Linked DNA regions of Homo sapiens: all the other regions are linked to region 1. The links come from fine-mapping of genetic effects on gene expression. A gene starts in region 1. Each other region holds a variant in brackets. All regions are shown on one strand. Distances are between the middles of the regions.

Region 1 (5,000 bases):
CAGAGCGAGACTCCGTCTCAAAAAACAAAAAACCAAAAAAACAAAAGAAAACAAAACAAAAAAACCCTCCAGATTTGCTTGAATTTGTCATTGGCCAAATCATATTCACCAGAAATTACCTAGGTAGGTTTTTAGGTTGGGTGATATTTTTCGAAGGAATGGTAAAGAGCATGGAGATGAGATAAACGAAAACCTACAAACTCTCCCAGTTATACAACTCACATAACCTGCAATGATGTCTGGAATTCTATGGGGCCCAAAGTAACAACAACAATGATGATGATGATAAGATTAAGATCTTACTACATACCAGGCACCCTTCTGCATACATTAAATATATTCAACAACCCTATTAATATCCCCATTTTGCAGGTGAGAAAAACAAGGCATAGAAAAGCTAAGTAACTTGCCCAAGATCACACATCTTGCTCCGTGAACACAGAGGAGGAAATGTAACTGGAAATGCCAAGCCCCCGTGCGGTCTGCCTGCCAGTGATGGAAACCTGACATGGGAGGGCAGCCACCACAGGAACCTGGGTTATGTTTCCAGTGTTGCCATTTGGGCAACAGTCTTCACATTCTCTTACTGAAAACATTAATCAATGCTCAGGTTCCAAGTAATCAAACATTAACCGAGACTCCTAACAGCCAGTTCCTTCTCAGACTAGCCCCACGGAGGTTTCCTAGATCTCGGGTAGCGATGGAACACTGGTTGATTCTCCTGGAACTGCCTTCAACTATTTAAGAAAAATCAGAGGGGAAAGCAGCTTTGAAGGAAATGTGCAAAGTAAAGCTATATGTGGGAGGCAGCAGTTCTAGTAAACGCACAGAACTCACAGCTGTGATTTTTCTTTTAAAGACATATAAATAAAAAGGAGTCCTCACTGGTGTAAATTACTCCTGCCTTTTTTTTTTCTCCACTTTTTTCAACTGCTCACATTTTGGAACTGTGTGAGCAAGTTTTTACATATTGATCAATCTTTTAAAGTTTATACATCATTTTCTTAAAGAAGGAAACAAAGATCAAGCTGAAAAGAACATTCAGGCAAAAGAGAAAAATTACATGATGAATGAATGCAGTCTTTGTGGGCGAGAATTCTGGGATGGGAGTGTGGGGTGTAGGGACAGCTTTCAAACACTTACTCAAATGTGCTTATCTTCATCATTTCCTGCCTCTAATTTTTACCGAATAACCACCTTGAGATCCCAGGAATTCAATAGGAAACTCAATTTAACAACAAGTTCCAGGGTATTCCACATAATCTCTCTTTAAGGCAAAGTCCCAAAAGAGAGATGGGACTATAATGACCACAAGTTAGGTGACTTTTCATATTCACATTCCTTCCACGTTCTTCGACAATCCTGGTCCAGTTACTTACTGTGGACCCTGTGTGCTTTACTTTCCTCTGCTATATAATGAGAATAATATTAACACCTTCTTTATCCGGTTGGTGTGAAAACTGCATGAATAAATGTAAAGCACTTGGACTGTGTCTGACACAGAGTAAAATGCTCGAATAGCATCAGCTGTTATTACTACTACTACTTACTACTATTATTTGCAAAAACATTACAAGGGATAATTATATCCAGGAAGCTTCCCTTGTATTGGTAATGTTTTATTGCTTTTTCTAAAATTTAAATCAGAGCAACAGTCAATACATGCACACAAAAAAGGCAATTCTTCAAAAATGTGGGGGAAAAGCCTCCCATACCCATGTTACCTGCTGGTGAGTTTCAGGTAAGGGTGTAGCTGGGAGCATCCGGTTCCAAGACTGCCTTGTATTTCTCTTACAGGATGCCTCCCCTTCTGCTGCGGTTTTTAATCAGCGTTTCTAGGGCAGGCTTGCAGGCGGGGCCGCGAACCCCCTGTAGTTGTACACGGAGCTGGGTGAGGCTGCGGCTCTGGGCATTTCTGGGGAGGAGTTCCATGGCTTTCCACAGACTCTAACCACCCTGCAGCGAGCCGCATGCTATACGGGTTAAACTCGGGGCATATCGAACGAACAATTCACTTCACGGAAGACTAGCAATAACCAGGACACCTGCGCTATTGATCAGCTATCTCAACACCAGAGAGACCCACCAGCACAAGGGGCAAGAATTGGCCAGGAGGCGCGCGGCGCTGCGCCCTCACCGCGTCCAGACAGACCCTTGAACTTCACCGCCAAAAAACGCACCGCTCCGCAGACCCGACCCGGGAGAGGGGTTTAACTTCCCCTCACCTTTCCCATCCCTCCTTCATTTCCAAGGACATACTCAAAGGAAACTGGCAACACTCGGTCTAGGGTTTCGCTCCTGCCCTCGGCGGACACCGAAACCACTTCTCCCAGGGAAGTTAATTAAAGGAACCATTAATCCGCCCAAAAATCCAAAACCTACCCCCAAAGCTCAAGAGCTCTGAAAAGAGATCGAGGGCGCCTCTGCCGATCTTGAACATCTCTGCTCGTCGCTGGGGCTTAGAGGTGGGCAGGGGGTGCCAAAGGGGCGCAGGCAAGACCCGGCCAGAGGGTTAGACGCCGGCCCCCGTTCCGAGGCGGCCCAGTCTACACGCCAGCGACGCCGGCTGAGCCGGGCTTGGAGGCAGCCAGGTAAGCAGGTAGGTGTAGGCATGTGTCTGAGCAGACACACAGCTGCGGCGGATTAAAGTTCAAGCCCGTTCACACTCCGCTTCCCCTTCCCAGGTGTTCTCACGCACGGCCCAGGCAGCCACTTTCCCGGGGAAGCCTCGGCGCTCGACCGGACAGTCCCCTCTTTGTCATTCTTAATGACTCCCCTTGCCTCCCAGGCGCCAACCCATTGAGACTACTCGCTTCTCTCCACTCTCCCAGGCGGGCGCAGAAACCCCCGGAAAGGGGAACTCGGCGGGGACCGGGGGAAGCAGGGTGTCGCGCGGCGCAGGGGGCGCCGCAGCCGGCGTACGTACCCAGAGCGAACAGGGCGAGCTGTCCAGCCGAGGGGACCATTTTACGGGCGGGCGGGCAGCAGGCTCTCCAGCCTCCTGCCCTACCTGCGGTGCCCGAGTGGCGGAGCGGCGCCGCGGTGCGGGGGAAAAAGACGCAGACTAGGCAGGGCCTGCCCCCGGCGCGGGAGGGCGGAGGGAGGACCGAGCGCCTCTCTGCTGGCACTCGCCCCGCAGCGCTGCCCGCCGGGCGGAAATAGGAAGGCGGCTACCGTCACCTCCTCGCCACTCGGCGACCGGGGCACAGCTGACCCCCCCCTCCCGCCCCGATGGGGGTGCCCCCCTGAGGGCACAGAGGGTGGGGGTTTGGGGTAAGGGGCGGGGACGCTGAGCGCACCGAGCAGGGCGCGGGCTGCTGGGCGGGGCGACCTGGGATCCCAGAGCCTGGCGGCGCGAGCCGGGCACCCGGGCCGACGAAAAGGCAGGAAGCGCCTGACTTCAGACACCACCCCCGACTGCCAGCGCCGTGCGGCAGCGGACTCCAGCGTGCGGGGTCGGCGCCGGCCGCGTAGCCGGATTGTCCTGGGCCGCAGTGGCGGCTTCCAGGCTCTAGGCGGCGGAGCGGAGCCGCCCGGGCACCCGTTACCTACACCGAGGGGCCGCTCCTGGGGCATCTCTGGGGCGGGGAAGGCTGGAGGCTGGGGACGCAGCCAGGAAAGGGACCTGTGAGTTTCGCCGGCCGCTTGCCAAGACTTGGCTCAAGGAAAGTGGTCCCCTGAATCAATGAAGAATTTGTTAAACCAGGTTTCCCACCTGTGCCACAGTTCCCATCAATTCTGGCAACGCCTGCCGCCTTACCTCCCAGGCAGGCCACATCGTTAAGATCAGTCTTCGTACTTCTGGCCTGGGACTGATAAAAAATGGGTCTCTGTGACGAATCTGGTTATATGGCACCACCAGCTGAGGCCAAAAGCCTGCTAGCCTGCCACCAAGTGTACCCCGAAAGAGGGGTGTGTGGGCCCGAGTCACCTGGGTGGTCCTTTCAGGATTTGTGGCTCTGAGGTGGCCCCTGGTGCTGGAATTTGGGGAGGTGGAGGGGATAGAGGGAAGACATTCTGGGCGAAGAGTGGAAGATCCATAGGTTCCTCGGTGACCCTCATGGGGACAGTACACCCGGGAGATTCATGTTCTCCAGGTACCCGGAGCTCACGGACTGACCCTCTTCTCCTGCCTCCTCTGGCCTACGTGCTCCGGGTAGATCCACTTTCCTTGAAGGTGGGGGTGGGGGCTGTTGGGCCTGGGGAATCTTTTGCTGTTTACTTGGGGAGGCTCAGGCTCTCACGGTTGACCTCTGCCCAGTTTGTTTCATGTAAGTAGAGCAACCTAGTTTCAAGAAGGAAGCACCAGGCCATTGGTCTCAACATTTGGGCAGGAAGCACCAGTGTAAATCATTCCTTTCAATAGATTTGTCGGAGCATACTTTGTTCTTTTAGGGTAAATCTTTTCCTTGGTCCACCCCATGCATGTACAAGGCACACATGCACTTCCTTTAGTAGGTTGTCCCTGACTCCCACTTCCTTCAGGTTGATCTTGACCTGCTCTGGTGGTTTCCCTGTCTCCTCCCTAAACTAGTCTGCTTTGGCTACAGAAGGGGAGGAATCAGGGGTTCCCCCACCCTTCTCCTGTTCCCCAGGACTAGAGAAGGACCTGACTCCTTGCTTCCTACTGGAACACGCAAATCAAGCTCACTGTGGCTGAGGGATGGCTGCCCAGCCGGCTGAGGGTCATGTTCAGCAGTTTCTGCTTATCTGTCCCCTACCCCCAAAGTCAGAGGTGGAGGGAAGTAGCAGAATCAAGTCAATTTCCTTCATGATTGGAAAATATTTTAAATCAAGAGGTAACTTGCAGGCCAGGCATGGTGGCTCACACCTGTAATACCATCACTTTGGGAGGCTGAGGTGGGTGGATTGCTTGAGCTCAGGAGTTCGAGACCAGCCTGGGCAACATGGTAAAACCCCCCATTTCTACTAAACATACAAAAAATTAGCCAGACATGGTGGCGTGCGTCTGTAGTCCCAGCTACTTGGGAGGCTGAGGC
Region 2 (5,000 bases), 24 kb before region 1:
CACTTAGTTGTATGGGCAGAATCTCATTTATTGACTCGAGACAAACCAGTAAGGAACAAGGCATGCCAACCCCAGAGCTGTGGGGCAGAGAGCATCATGTATCTTTTAGCAGTGTCAATTTAAGACATTTTAAAGGAAAACAAAAATCCCGGAGAAAATGCAATAGCTCTGCTATGGGAAAATGGGAGTGGGATCTCCCCTACCAACCCTGCTCTAGTCCATTTTCCCCTTTAACTTTTGCTGGGGAAAGGGTGGTGATGAGAAGCAAAAAGGAGGGAGAGGGAAAAGAGGAAGTTTTCTGCTAGGATGGTTTAGTTCTAGCAAGAACAGAGACCAGCAGGAAGACTACAGAAAGAAGAATGAAGGTGGCAGCATTTCACCTTTAAGTCCCATGTAAGAGTGCAGTGAGAAAAGGGTTTCAGGTTACTAACAGTTAGTGTATTTCTGAAGTATTTTCTGGAAAAATTAGACTCATCTAAATGAAAGTGGTTCAGGAGTCAAAACCAATTGATAAAGTGGTCCAGACACTTTAGAAGACAGTTTTTCAGTTTCTTACAAAATCAAACACACCCTTATACAATCCAGCAATAGTGCTCCTTGGTATTTACCCAAATTAGTTGAAAACTTATCTTCAAAGAAAAATCTGCATATAGATGCTTACAGTAGCTTTAATCATAACTGTGAAAACTTGGAAGCAACCAAAATATTCTTCAGTAGGTAAATGGATAAACAAATTGTGGTACATTCATACAATGGGATATTATACAGCAATGAAAATAAATAAGCATCAAGTCACATAGAGAAAGCTTAAATACATATTACTGCATGAAAGACGCCAGTCTGAAAAGGCTGTATATTGTATGATTCTAACTATATGACAGTCTGAAAAAGGCAAAACTGTAGAGATTGTAAAAAGATCAGTAGTTGCCAGGGGCTTGGGAGAGGGGAGAAAGGGATGAACAGGTGTAGCACAGGCAATTTTTAGGTCAGTGAAATGACTCTGTACAATACTATAATGGTGGGTATGTGTCATTATAAATCTGTCCAAACACATAGAATGTACAACTACAAGAGTGAGCCCTAATGTAAACGAGGGACTTTAGTTTATATCTAACTTTAGTTAACTAATATTAACTTTAGTTAATAATGTACCAAAATTGACTCATCAATTGTAACAAACATATCACACCAATGCAGGATGTTAATAACAGGTGAAACTATGCAGTGGGGTAAAGCTCTCTGTGCTTTCTGCTCAATTTTTCTGTAAATCTAAAGCTACTCTAAAAAAGTATTCTATTACCAGCTGATGACAGTTACAGCACTGTGAAGTTGGATGACTTTACTCTGCACTCTGGATTGTCCAGTCATACTGTTTCCCTAGGTTCAAGTACAACGTCCTTCTCCTAAGGAAGCCATGGCAGGGGCAGCTTGAGTCAGACATTTCTGGAAATGCAGAGGAGACACTGCTTAGTCGTGGATGAGCAGCCTTGTACGGAGCACTGTGGCTCTCAGCCTCATCTGCTGCCCTGTGGGCTCAGCTGATTGCAAAGACAGACAAAGCTCACTTCCAGCCTTTGCCATCACTATGAATTCTACCCTGCTGAAAACAGAGAGGGCAGAAGCACGCTTATTTCTCACCTATGGTGAAATGTGTTGAAGGGCTATGTTCAGTAACATCTAATTTTAGTCAACTAGTCTTAACTTTAGTTAATAATATACCAATATTTTTGATATATTTTGAACAATTGCTCATTAATTGTAACAAACATACTACACCAATATCACATGTTAATAACAGGGTCATAGTAGCATGTATTCACAGTGGCTCCCAGGGAGAAGCAATGACCAGCTTCGGTCAGTAGCTGATCTCGCCGGGCTGGGCTGCCCTGTACCCCAAGCCTCACTCTCACACTGGGAGCATGTCAGACGAGAGGAGGCCGAGAAAAACAATGATCCCTGTGGAAAGAGGCATGGAAAAGGCAGGGGTTGGGGGAGTGGGGAGGGAAGGGTAGAACGATGTGGGGGGCGGGTGGGTCTTCCAGAGAAGTCATCTAGTAGAAAGGTTGACAGGCACACAGTCAGGAATCTGAGCAGCCTTTGAAACAACCAAGAAAAGCCAGTATCCTGGTTTTAGTGCAACTGGCCTTGCTTGTGTGGTTTCCCACAAAAAAGATGATGTATCTTAGGCGCTCTGGCTCTCAGCTGGGGATAAGTTATCAATACAATTTTTAAAAATCTATTGTCAGTGAGCTCTGTGACCAAGAGGGCAGAACCTAAGAGTTACTACAAGGGTAGTTTAATTCAACTTCTTGACCCTCCAGCTATATAAGGGAGGGCTCCCAAGTGGGTATCAGACACGGCCTTTATCATAAAATGAAGCTACAGCTACACAGAATTCTTCCAGCCTCCTCTCCCTGTTCCTTCTTACACTTCAGGAGAGAAAGGTACAAGAGAGCACTGGGTGGGACGAGGGGGGCTTTTAATTGTCCAGCATCCACCTCTGGTGAAAATGTGTAGCAAGCAGCTCACTCCCATCCCTGGCTTTATCTTTGTTGCCAGCACTGTTACAACCTGACATTTTATGGTATGTATGTCTGTTTGTTTTCTGTCTCCTTGGGACCAAGTCAGGTGTGTGAGGTGGAGGGGAGTGTTTTTGGTTCACCGTATTCTCATTGCCCAGAACAGTGCCTGACACATAGACAAGCT[A/C]TCAGCAAACACTTGCTGAAAGAATTGTTTCTTTTCAAGCCAAACCTGCCAGGCAGTTCCGCAGAGACATCCAGGGGGCATGAACTACAGAAGACAACACTTGGACTCTCCTATTTGAGCAGCAGCACTTTATAAGCACCTTGTGGAATCTAGGTGATTTCCATCTGGAGTAAGGAGACACTGTTCCAACCTTTCTGTGATGACAGTTCTCCAACAAATAACACAGACACTGGAGCATTTTTCATCACGGATGCGTGTAAATAAATAGTCATCATGGATGTCTTTTCTGAATAGATGACATCTGACACAGGCCTGAATAAAACGAGGGAGCCAGATCTGGAAATATCTGGAGGAAGAGCACGTGCAAAGGTCCTGAGGAGTGAATCCCCCCGCCCCAGTCCTAGAAAAGAGCAGGTGGCTGCTGTGGCTGGGGGAGGGCACACCGGGAAATGAGGCTGGAGAGATGCTGGGGCAGACGCCTCCAGTGGGGAGCACTAGGGGCCTGGACTTTATTCCAAGCTGGGCAGCCCCTGGAAGACTTTGAGCAGAGGAGCAATAACATCTGATGCATGTGACAGAAGAGACACTCAGGGTCCTGGGGACAGAAGAGGCCTTAAGGAGGCACAAGTGGGAACTGGAAGAATGGGGTGAGATCACTGCAGAAGTTCAGGCAAAGGTCACAGTGGGGTGGCCACTGGGACATGAGAGTTGTCAGACATAGAATATAACAGAAACAGAGCCAGCAGAACTTCCTGAGGGACTGAATGTGGGGGTATACTTTGGCCTCATTCTTCCCTCTGCCTCTATCTATACTATTCCCTGCCTTCTCCTTCTACTTCCTAGGCTATGTTCAACCTCCAAGGCCAGTTCAAGTACCAATGTCTGCAAGAACCTTTCCTGACCACCTCAGATGGGAGATTCTGTCTCCCTCAAAAAAATTTAAAAAGCAAACATGAAGAAGTAGGAACTCAGGCTTAGAGATATCCATTAGCAGGCTCAACTCCTGTGAGAGTCAGACCTACATGAGTAAATCTTATCTTGGTCTGGATAGTTTAAAACTTCTCTGAAGCACTTTCAAGTTCCCTTCCAGGGTCTGCCCACCATCCCTGAAATATTAATACTTCAGGATGCTGCCACCTGGAATGAAGGCTTTGTCCTTGGTCATTCACAGGCAGATCCCAGGGATCTCCATCTAAGGCAGTGGTGTCCAATCTTTTGGCTTCTCTGGGCCACATTGGAAGAAGAAGAATAAGAACACACATAAAATACACTAACAATAGCTGATAAGCCAAAAATAAAATCACAAAAAATCTTGTAATGTTTTAAGAAAGTTTATGAATTTGTGTTGGGCCACATTCAAAGCCCTCCTGGGCCACAGGCGGCCCATGGGCCACAGGTTGGACAACCTTTGTCTAAGGTAACCCCAGGTTTACTTATAAGACATGCATTAAATACCCAGGAGAAATTAGCCTGCAGATGACAACGGCTATGCCCAAGGCTTTCTGGAAGCTCACACAGTGTCTCATCTAGCTCAGCACAGACCTCAGCAATACCACCTGCAGGCAGGTCTGACAGCAACCCAAGCTCAGAGGTGAAGGGTCCACAAGGACCAAAGCAAACAGGCTCGGTGCTGGCCTGGTACCAGAGCACGTGCAAGCTGCAAATGCCCAGCCCAAGACTGTGCTCTCCTCTAGGTTTCTATGCCCTCAATGTACCACCTCTGCAGCAATCCCTGAGGCCCCAGGTCTCCACTTTCCTTTATATCTCCACACTGCACCTGTGGGAGAAAGTTTAACAGAGATAGCCACCTCCACTGAAGTGGGTGTGATGATGCTGAGCTGGCTGCTCGGGCAGGAGCACTGAGACATACCCTATATCCTCCAGGGAAAGGAGTCCTCCCCTCTAAGAAAAGGTAGAAGGCAGTGTTCCTTCTGACTAAGAGCCAGACAGAATACTCATGTGATAACTCAACAAGGGCCCAAAGTTGACAGACCTGAACGTCCACACAGAGTATGGTCAGTCCCATTAGCTGTGTTTTTTTGCCTCTTACTTCGAGGGGAGGCAGACACCCCAGTGTGTCCTGAAGGGTTTCAAACATACCAGTCCACACCCTCATGGGCTCTTTGCCTTGCTGGGAAGCCAATCCTGTCTAACAGGACTCCGTAGTGATTCTCCATGGCTATGGTACTAGATTTATGGAACACCTTTTAAAGCCTCAAGTACTGCGTTTAAAAAAATAAAAAGCCATGAGATATAAGCAACATAAGTGGGGACACCTTCAACTAATTCTTAGA
Region 3 (5,000 bases), 82 kb before region 1:
ACAGTCACCTGCATGTGCTTGGCTTGAGTGGTTGAGGAACAGGCCCAGTCACTGGCTAACAGTAGACGCTGGATGCTGAATTGAGACAGGAAGGGTCTGCTGTAGTTTGCATAACTGGCTTCTCTGTGCTCACTGAACTTGTCAAGGAACAAACACAGAGAGATGAAGGGGCTAGACTCTAGAGGCCAATGCAGGCCGGCAAGGCAGCAAAACTTCATCTGTACTTACAGCCACTTCCCATTGCTCACGTTAGCTCCGCCTCCTGTCAGTTTAGCAGTGGCATTAGATTCTCATAGGAGCGGGAAACCTATTGTGAACTGTGCATGTGAGGGATCTAGGCTGTGTACTTCTTATGAGAATCTAATACTTGATGATCTGTCACTGTCTCCCATCACCCCCAAATTGGACTGTCTAGTTGCAGAGAAACAAGCCCAGGGCTCCTCCCGATTCTACATTATGGTGAGTTGTATAATTATTTCATTAAATATTACAATGTAATAATAATAGAAATAAAGTACACAATAAATGTAACAAGCTGGAATCATCCTGAAACCAGCACCTCTCCCAAGTCTGTGGAAAAATTGTGTTCCATGCAACTGGTCCCTGGTGTCAAAAAGGTTGGGGGCTGCTGGGCTAGTGGATCTCATTTGATGTACATGTTCAAAAAGGCTTTTGACAGGCTCCACAAAAGGCCGTTTAAACCACCACCTCCAAGTGGCTAGAGGAAGTCCCTTTGTCAGGGCTTTGGGCTGGGTTCCTCCAAGTGTGATCTGCAGACAGACAGCTTCACATTCCCCTGAGTTTGCCTGCCACCCCTACCCAGCCCAGACCTACTGAATCAGGATCTCTGGGGTGAGGCCCAGAAATCTGTGGGACAAACTTGCTAGGTGATTTTTTAAAGTCAGGCCTATTGAAATAGAATTGCTATACTGTAATGTTTGCCCTGCAGGTAATTAATTAATTAATTAATTAATTTATATTTTTATTTTGAGACAGGGTCTCACTTCATCATCCAGGCTGGAGTGCAGTGGCACGTTCATGGCTCACTGCAGCCTTGACCTCCTAGGCTCAAGCAATCCTCCCACCTCAGCCTCCAGAGTAGCTGGGATTAACAGGTACATTCCACTGCACCCAGCTAATTTTTGTATCTTAGTAGAGAGACAGAGTGTCACCACATTGCCCAGGCTGGCCTCGAACTCCTGGGCTCAAGTGATCTGCCTACCTCGGCCTCCCAAAGTGCTGAGATTATAGGTGCGAGCCGCCACGTCTGGCCCCCTGCAGGTGATCCTGATGCACACTAATGTTTGAGACGCAGGCTTGTGTTACACAGAAGCAAAGGATAAATGGGCTCTTGCAAAAGTGGAAAGGCCAGGGTCCTTTTTGGAGCTGATTATCTTCCAGCTCTTCAAACTCCTGTGTGACTCTAAAGCCTGAAATCTGCTGAGGTTCTTCGTGGTAAAGTATTAGGTCAGTAGAAATACAAAGAAAGAGAAAACTTGGAATCTGTTTTGGAACACTTCTCTAAAACTGATTGGTGAAGGGTGGACTCTGCTATGGTCTCATTTAACCCCTATTGATGGATACCTTTGCCTCTTTTTATAAATGACATGAGGTGGTGTTATAAAAATAGGTACCATAAAAAGGCAATGCAAACGAGAAACAAGTGTGTGTGGGAGAAACAGCGAGAAGGAGAGAGACGGGAGAGAGGGACATAAAAAGGAAGAAGGAGGGAAGGAGACAGGAAGGGAGACAGAGAGTAGAGAGAGACGGGGTGGGGTTATGAGAGCGATAAGAGAGAGAAGGAACAGAAGAAGAGGGGAGGGAGGGAAACAGGAAGAAACAGACAGGCGGGCAGTGAGAGAGGGAAGGAGAGATTGGGACAAAGGAAAGTAAGGGTAAGGAGCAGCAATGAGCAAAACAGGCACCAGGTTAATACACAAAGATGGATATCAGAAAATCACACGCACATGCCAAAGCTGAGGGACAAATCTAACTCTATGCCTCCTGGCAGTCTTAGCAAGGATGTATAAGGTTCATTAGATAGGAATATATATACTTGTTCTGCACAAGCTGGACAGGCTCAGCTTTCCCTAAGTCTGTGGTTGGAGAGCAACGGTCAGAGAGCAACTTCTCTTCTTCTGCGGGTGTTTTTGAAGGGGACTTCATGTGCTGTGGTGGATGACATCCTGAACAATTTCCCAAAGAAGCATCTGCCCGTGTAAAC[C/A]ATCAGTTCTTTCACTTCACACAGCTCACTAAGAAGCCAGAAGAGTCCAAGCTGTGAAGAAGCTCCATGCAACAGTAACAGTGATGGCAGATGACATGTGGTGGTCTCGCTCTGTGTATTCAGAGACCAGAGTGGAAACAAGCCTGAGGCTTAGAGTGCAAGTTCCTGGTCCTCCATAATTCCACCTGTCTGCCTCAGCCCAAAGGGCAGAGAGGATGAAGGGAGCTTGATGCTAGTGGATTATCATTAGAAGGTTGTTTATTAAAAAAAACCCTTTTCCTGACTACAACCATGATACATTCACTCTTGAAACTTTTTCAAAAGTTTCAAGACATTTTCTCATTACAAAAGTGACATATTTTTAGGAAATTAAAATAAATCAATATATAATAAGTACCATATTAGAGAATAAAACCCATCTGTAATCCACTATGTAGAGAGAACCATGTAAGTATACACTGCACACGAACATGCACCTAAACTTACTCTTTCTATTCTGTTACGTGCATTCTCCTCCCCGCACCCCCCCCACCATATAACCAAACTTCTTAAAAACAAGCATTTAATTCAAGTTCGAGGTTCTTTGCGCAGGGTGCTGTCCTGCCCCCACCACCCAGGAAGTTCAATGTGCACCATGTGCAGAACGGGTTCCTCTTCCACTGGCATATTTGGCAGCTTTGTAGCTTGTCACAGGTTTTCTGATAGGGGATGTGATTCACACTTGAGACCTAAGTGGACAGGGAGGAGTGGGTCAAACCACAGTCCCAAGGGCAAGCCACACTGTGACCACTCTGCTCTTCCTGTGCACCCTTAGGATGAGCCAGCTCCAGGAGGGGCAGCACTGGGGCTTGTGCGCCCCTAGGGTGCTGTACGAGCCTCGTGAGCTGATGTGCTTTACTAAAGCCATCTCCAACAAGTGAGGGCGGAGTAACTGTTCTCATTTGAGGGCCTTTAAAGGTGTTTGTCTTAGATCCTCCCAGACTCAGCAAAGAACACCCCAAATACCAGGGCAGGGTCAGCCCAGGCAGACAAGGCTATTCCTATGAGAGGCACTTTGGTGAAGGTAGGGGAGGGCAGGGACAGGGATGTCACTTATTGAGTGCTTGCTAAGTGCTGGGGGCTTTCCTTACATCATCCGCCAAGTCGAGGCAGGGTAGGCGGCCTGCTTTAACCTAAGTAGTCTCCATTTTTTAGATAAGAAAACTAAACTGAAGCTTAGACAACCTTGTCAATGGGCAAGGGTTTGCTCAGTAACTTAGAGTACCATCTCCTCCTTGGGGGGCAAAACTGCCTCCAGTTATTTTATAAAAATGAGCATTACAAGGAACCCCCCAAATTCCTGGTATCTTTCCTAAGAATGATTCTCTCAGCCTCTCTCTCAGAGTCTGCCTCTTTCTTTTCTTCCTGCTTTTCTCTCTCTCCCCCTATTTTTTTCTCTATCTCCCTTCACTCTCCCTTTCCCACTCTATTGTTTTTTCTGGAAATTCAAGAAAATAGCGAGTGAGGGAAGGAAAGGCCTAGAGACTTAAAATTTAAAAAAAGAATCACTTAGAAAAGGAAGGTGGCAAAGGCCAGCAGGGAATATCCAAAGAAAGTCTCCCCAAGATGTGCCAGCTGAGGGCAGAGAAGGACTGGCACTGGCCCCCAGGACTCTGGCCCATCTCCTCCAGACACCAAGTCTGAGTAGCACTTGGGGCTGACGATAGGAAAAGCAAATGTTCCAGGTTTTGGAACAGACCTCATATCGAGCCCACCAGCAGCTGGAGTTTCAAAGCCACTCAGTTCCTGTTGCCATGAAATTTATGAGAGGCCCCTCCAGCATGTTAACCAAACGCACATCTTGCAGACACCACTGCTCTCTGGGGAAGCTGTGAAAGCTTTGCCTAGAGACCACAGACCCACTAACAGGGCCTGGAGCCCAACCCTACTTACAGGAAGAGGGTCTGGAATAGCAATTGAGGGGCAGGGAAATCCCCCATCCAATTCACAGGAGGGGTCTCCGTAGTTCAGAGGAGCCAGGGAGACAGCCATCTGGACAGCTCCTCCCAACAGCCCTGCTCCCCTGGGAGCAGCATCCACACCCCTGAGCGCAATCACCCCCTTTAAAAGCAGCCCTAATTGGACTTCATGCTGTGCTGGTCAGCGGGAGCCGGCTGAGCCTGTGGCTCTTAACTCTCTTCCCCAGATGTCAAAAGTTGTGAACACGTTTGCCCATTGCAGAGCTTACATCATTTACAGCCATTTCATAACTTCCTCAGATATCATGGCTAACTTTCTAACAATTTAATCATGACGTCTGGCTTTTTAGTAGGAACTTTCAGCCAAAGTTTCTGACCTGGGACTAAATATTTTGTCTTCAGATACTACAATGGCAAAGCCAACTAATACTTTTTGGATGTCTAGGAGAAAAGGCAGTAGATTAATTTAGTAAAGATGGGAGTCAGCAGTAGCTACTGGGGAAGCTGGCGGGGGGTATAAATCTGATACTCCCAGGTATCAAGGCCTCCATTCCACCCTGAGGCCAGGCTGGAGTCACCCAAAGCTCTGGACTCAGCTCTGGGATGGGAGGCTGGCTTCAGGGCAGCAGCAGGCCCAGTTTACAAGGGTGGAACTCCAAGCTTGGGAGGTGATGCGTGAACCTGCAAAAGCAGCTATGGAGTGAAGGAGAGGCTGGTGCGGAGGCTTACACTCGGGTGGCAGAACTGCTAAGCCAGAGCTTAGAGAAGTAAATGGTCTAGAACCCAGTGGCTGCCCAGAGAGACTTGGTGAGCAGGGA
Region 4 (5,000 bases), 55 kb before region 1:
ACAGGTCTCTCTATTAGTCAAATAAATTACCTTAAAAGGAAATTTTATGGTATTCTTCAAACAGATTCTGACACATCTTTTAAAGATTATTTCTACTTGGTCTATAGTCTATATTTTACAACTATTTTGAAGGTGATTCTCTCCAGTATATTTTTTATTGTTACTATGATTATTGTTATTTGAGGGAGATTCTTTTAAGTGTATAATATCATTAACTATAAGCACAATGTTGTACAGCAGATCAATAAAGTTTTTCATCTTGCATAACTGGAACATTCTACCGTTTGAATAGTATAATAATTCCCCATTTTCCCCTCCTGCTCAGTATATTTTTAATTGGTTATTGATGGTTTATAGGAAAACTACTGACTGTTTTCTTACTTGCACCCTACTGGCTACTTTTAAGATTTCTAATAGGCATTTGTGGCAGTTTGTGCGTGCTTCCTTGATATATACTCATATAATTTGTAGAAATAGTGATTTATCTCTTTTCCAACCAGAGGCTCCTGAGCACTGAGGAGCCTGGCTGCCGTGGAGATCTCAGCTGAATACTGCAAAGCTGCTGCCATACCCACATGTGTGAACCTGAAGGCCCCGAGACTGGGGGAAGGAGGTGGTGTTACCAGAGCAGTATCACTGTTATCTGAAGCTTGGACACTGCTTTCCAGTTGCTGCCATAAATTATTTTTATTGTTTTTTAAAAATGAGACTTTAAGACACATATTGCTTCTCAAATAAGAGTCATTCGTAATCTTCACACTCAAGGCAGATCTCCACAGCTCCCTCCAAAATATGCTTCTACCAGAACCCTTTCTTGTTACCACCAAGTTCTTTTGCAGAAAATAGCAGAAAAGGACCTATTTCAAAGGCCATGGACAAAAAATTTTGAGCCACAGGGAAAAAAAAACAGAATACTTCATGCTATTATACCTATGAAGATACAGAAAGAGGCAAAAACTTAATATTGAACCATAACCTCAGACCTGACTCTGGCACAAACCTTTATAGGCAGACAAACCTGAGAGCAAATATTGGCTCTTTGTGACTTACTAATTCTGACCTTGGGCAAGTCACTGAAACTCTCTGGGGCTCAGTTTCCCCATGAATCAATAGGGAATGTTATAAAGGCAAAATGGGTGATATAAAGCACTTGGTATGGTGCATAGTGTTCCTTCCTTCTTTACTTCCTTCATTCATTTACTCACTCAACAAAATATCAAGTGTCTTGTATGCGTCATGCACTGTGCTGGGTACTGGGGATCCATTAATTAACTAGACAGACAAGGTCCCTGCCCTCAAGGAACTTAAGTCTAATGGGGGAGGCAGGCAAATAAGTAAATAAACAAACGAAATCATTATAGACAGCACTGGGTGCTACTAAGGAAATGCACAGAGATGTGATGAAGAGCTACTGCCAGAATCACCATGCAGGGAAAACTTCTCTGAAATGGTGAAGCACATCTGAGACCCGAAGGACATGAATGAGTCAGCCACTGGAAAAACTGGGGAAAGAGCATTCCAGGCAGAAGGAGGAGCAAGTGCAAAGCCTAGAAGTTAGAGAAGGACATGATACATCTGGGAAAAAGAAAGGAGACCAGGGAACCGGAGCATAGAAAGTAAGGAAGAAAGACGTATGAGCTACAGATGGAGTGGGAATGGGTGTTGCACCCGGCAGAGCTCTGCAGGGCAATGGAGAGCTTGGACTTTACTCTGAGAGTATGTTACTATGTATGTTCTTGTAGCTGTTGATATGAGAGATGCAGTATTGGGTTTGCCATTTAAACCAGAAGCTTACACACATTTTTAACTATTTTCTTTGCAACAAAGTATATGACATAGATCTTAACTTAGGAGGCTCATTTTAAGATTGCTAAGCATTTCTGTTCAATTCAGTGAATCTCCAAGGTCCACAACCAGACCTAACCCCATGCACAAAATAATGAAAAGCACTTTCTTCACCTACTATATGGGAGGCACTGAAATAAGAAAAGCCTGCACCAGTGGTCACTGCCTACAAGGAGCTGAGGTCCTTGAGCATCTTCTCCTTTGGGCACATTGCATCCCAGCCCTGCTAACTTCTGATTAAGAACCAGCTGTAGAAAGGAGGGCCAGGCTGGTGGGTAGGATAAGAGAAAGTGGCCTCCAGGTTTTGAAAAGACAGTGGTGGCCTGTGATCTGCTGCTTGACATAAAACTTCCACTGCCAAGAACCTTGGCCATGTCAGCCTGACCAGTAAGAATCATTTTACAGAACCTATGTCACAGCTATCCAGGCTAAGCAATTCTTTCCATCATTTTTTAAAGCTAATTCATATCAAATGCGCAAATCTGTATTTTCACAAAAGGTGTTACAGTTATTTACTTGAGGTACTCTTGCATTGTTCTGCCTTGAAAATTGTTAGATACAAGAGGAAAAATAACTAAAAACAGCTTATTCCAGCATTAACTCTTAGCTCTGCCAATGGAAGAAAGCCAATGTGGTATTTTTATAACCAAAGAAAACTGACTGTTGGTACAATTTCCAGTTTACATAACAGTAGCATTCCAAGAGCTTGTTTGTAAATCATTTGGTGAGATCTCAGAATCCACAGGAAACAGAATATTACAAAAAGTGGGTGAAAGAGCTGGAGCAGCTCATAAAAGCTGGTCTTACCTATTGCATACCTCACCTCTTAAACAGAGTGCTGCTAAATCTGCCATTCTTAACAATACCACCAGGGACAATGTTGGGCACAAATTTTCTGAGAATATGGATTCCTTATGCTGTTCAAACCATCAGCCAGCAGGCTTGGGGCTCCCCCAGGGCCCTGCCTTTCCTGGCATGGGACTAGGGTGGCAGGTGGGAAATAGGCTGCAGGAAGAGGAGGAGATGAGGTTGCAGAGGACCAGAGGTTTGAGGCACCAGTTTCAGATTAACAGAGAGTAAGGGCAA[C/T]GGGGCTTGGGCTAAGGGTTTTGGAACAGGCTGGAGAGAAAAAAATCAAGACAAGGAATGAGTTTTTTCTTCTCTTTATCCCCTTTATCATCAAGTTAAGTGGAGGGGAGGGGAGGTAGAAGGGACCACCCATTTACTGACTGTAAAAGGTGGCAGGTGCAAAGGTGTGGTGGATGCTGCCCCTCCTCTCCTGGTTTTGTGTGTGGCAGTGAGATCATGTCATACATATATGACAGCTTGCACAGATCTAGTTTGCATAAAAGTCCACACCTGCCAGTGTATAATGGCCAGTATTTGTTCTATATTATAGTTGACAAATGCTTTCACATTCATTTGATCTTTACTGCCTTCAACAGACATGCAAAACCAGATTCGGTCTGTGTTAGAGTCAGGATTCAAGAGTCCTTCCCTCTTTTTCCCCTACACTTGTGGTTTTCAACCCTGGCTGCATACTAGAATCTCTGGGGGAGGTTTTAAAAATTACTGATGCCTGGATGCCATCCCCAGGCCCTGTAAATTAGAATCTCTGGGGTGGGGCCAGGACACTAGTGTTTTTAAAACTCCCCAGGTAATTCTAACGTGCAGCCATAGTTGAGAACTCTAGTTCTACTCAATGGTCCTCAAACTTACAGTGAATATGAATCACTAGGGGAGTTAAAAATGCAGATCCCCAGGCCCTACCTCTGAGATTTGCATTTGGCCTATGAAGCAGACATTCCCATTGCTTACCAGTGTACACTCACCTCTATTTCTAGGTATATAGAGGCCTTCCCGGTCTCCTTGGAGCTAGGTATGGCCATATGAGTTGTTTCAGAGAATGAAATGTGAGCACTGACAAGTAACGCATAACTAGGCGGGAGTACCCAGCTTGCTGATGGATCCCACTTGCTGATATGGAGGTCTAACCTGAACTATCAGTTTTCCTGGGGAGTATCCCAGGGCCCGCAGTGGACACAGAGTGACCGAGAGTTAAACCTGCTGTTAAGCCAGTGAAATTTTGTCACTGCAGCATAACCTAACATCTCCTGACTGAACCTTTTAGTCTGGAGTAAATCTTAATTTTTACAAGCGTTCTGGGTGATTCTTATGCCAACAGCCTATGGTCCACACTTTTAGAAGTAACCTCGATGCCATATTAACTTTCTGTACTTCGTTTCTTTATAAAGAAATAGGTGAGCTACAGAGAGCTAGTATTCACTTATTTACTCAACTTTTATTTTGTATCTATTGTGTCAGACATTGCACTAGGGGTTCATCCGTATGCAGAGCATTTTCACAAGTACAGGGACATGAGAAAGCACTCAACAGCTGGCTGCAGCACAATATTGGGGTGAGACTGAGGAAGGATGACCCTGGGGCTGGCGTTTAGGGAGAAACCCAGGATTGAAGGAAAGGATGTGAGTGAAAACAAATGTGTCGCAAGGTTCTAAAACTGTGAAATAAACATAAGCCGCATAAGTAATTCTATATATTCTAGTAGCCACCTTTAGGATAAAAAGGTGAAATTGATTTGAATAATGTATTTAATTTAACCAAATAAGGTCAAAATAGTGTTACTTCAATAAACAAGCAATACAAACATTTATCGATAAGATATTCAGTTTTAATGTACTAAGTCTTCACTATATGGTATATGGTATCTATTTTCAACACATCTCCATTGGAACTAGCCATGTGTCAAGCACTCCACAGCTGCATGTGGCTGCCATATTGGACGATGCAGTTCTAGACAGAGCTGCCAGAGGCTTCTCGGGATATCCTCTTCAAGGAGGTACCACATGCAAGTGGCCTGGGCATCAGGAACTCTTTTACTTAAAAACAAAAATATTAACTGAGAATCCTCTCTGGTCCAGATTTTTAATAGTATCAGCCTTTGAACACCAATAAAAATACACTGATATTTTAAAATATTGGTATCATCAAAGCTCTCTCCCCAAACAACATCCTGGTTCAGGGGCTACATTCACTCACAAAGTGATACTACTTAAGCAGAGTTTAAAAAAAAAAAAGTTAACTTGTAGTCTTAATGGCAAAATGTACTTTTGGAGAATTCTTGTGGCTAAATGAGT

Which allele goes with the higher level. Positions count from the first base shown, and alleles are read on the strand shown. Sizes are in standard deviations (SD) of each study's normalised expression.
For the expression in left ventricle of the gene that starts at base 3,025 in region 1, allele A in region 2 goes with a higher level than allele C (small effect, 0.34 SD a copy in GTEx).
For the expression in anterior cingulate cortex of the gene that starts at base 3,025 in region 1, allele A in region 3 goes with a higher level than allele C (small effect, 0.33 SD a copy in GTEx).
For the expression in spinal cord of the gene that starts at base 3,025 in region 1, C is the low allele of the variant in region 4 and T is the other (small effect, 0.24 SD a copy in GTEx).

The links. PIP is the estimated chance that this variant, and not a neighbour inherited with it, causes the effect. A credible set is the group of variants that fine-mapping cannot tell apart.
Region 2: its variant is the best candidate, but not a certain one, in a credible set for the expression of TGFA in left ventricle (GTEx, PIP 0.86).
Region 3: its variant is the best candidate, but not a certain one, in a credible set for the expression of TGFA in anterior cingulate cortex (GTEx, PIP 0.54).
Region 4: its variant is the best candidate, but not a certain one, in a credible set for the expression of TGFA in spinal cord (GTEx, PIP 0.59).

The regions. Positions count from the first base shown.
Region 1 is chr2:70,550,802-70,555,801 of GRCh38, forward strand. It overlaps TGFA (transforming growth factor alpha), which reads right to left and starts at 3,025. Exons shown (of 6, transcript NM_003236.4): 1 at 2,927-3,025. The coding sequence starts at 2,966. It overlaps LOC124907824 (a long non-coding RNA gene), which reads left to right and starts at 1,907. Exons shown (of 2, transcript XR_007086906.1): 1 at 1,907-2,591. RefSeq lists a silencer at 3,086-3,155.
Region 2 is chr2:70,526,498-70,531,497 of GRCh38, forward strand. The region is part of intron 1 of TGFA (transforming growth factor alpha); the gene reads right to left. Among named protein-coding and RNA genes, the nearest start is that of TGFA, 25 kb to the right of the region's middle. The variant A/C (reference allele first, on the strand shown) is at 2,707.
Region 3 is chr2:70,468,364-70,473,363 of GRCh38, forward strand. The region is part of intron 2 of TGFA (transforming growth factor alpha); the gene reads right to left. TGFA-IT1 (TGFA intronic transcript 1) reads right to left here. Exons shown (of 3, transcript NR_046798.1): 2 at 9-132. Among named protein-coding and RNA genes, the nearest start is that of TGFA-IT1, 11 kb to the right of the region's middle. The variant C/A (reference allele first, on the strand shown) is at 2,225.
Region 4 is chr2:70,495,532-70,500,531 of GRCh38, forward strand. All of the region lies in intron 2 of TGFA (transforming growth factor alpha), which reads right to left. Among named protein-coding and RNA genes, the nearest start is that of TGFA-IT1, 16 kb to the left of the region's middle. The variant C/T (reference allele first, on the strand shown) is at 2,932.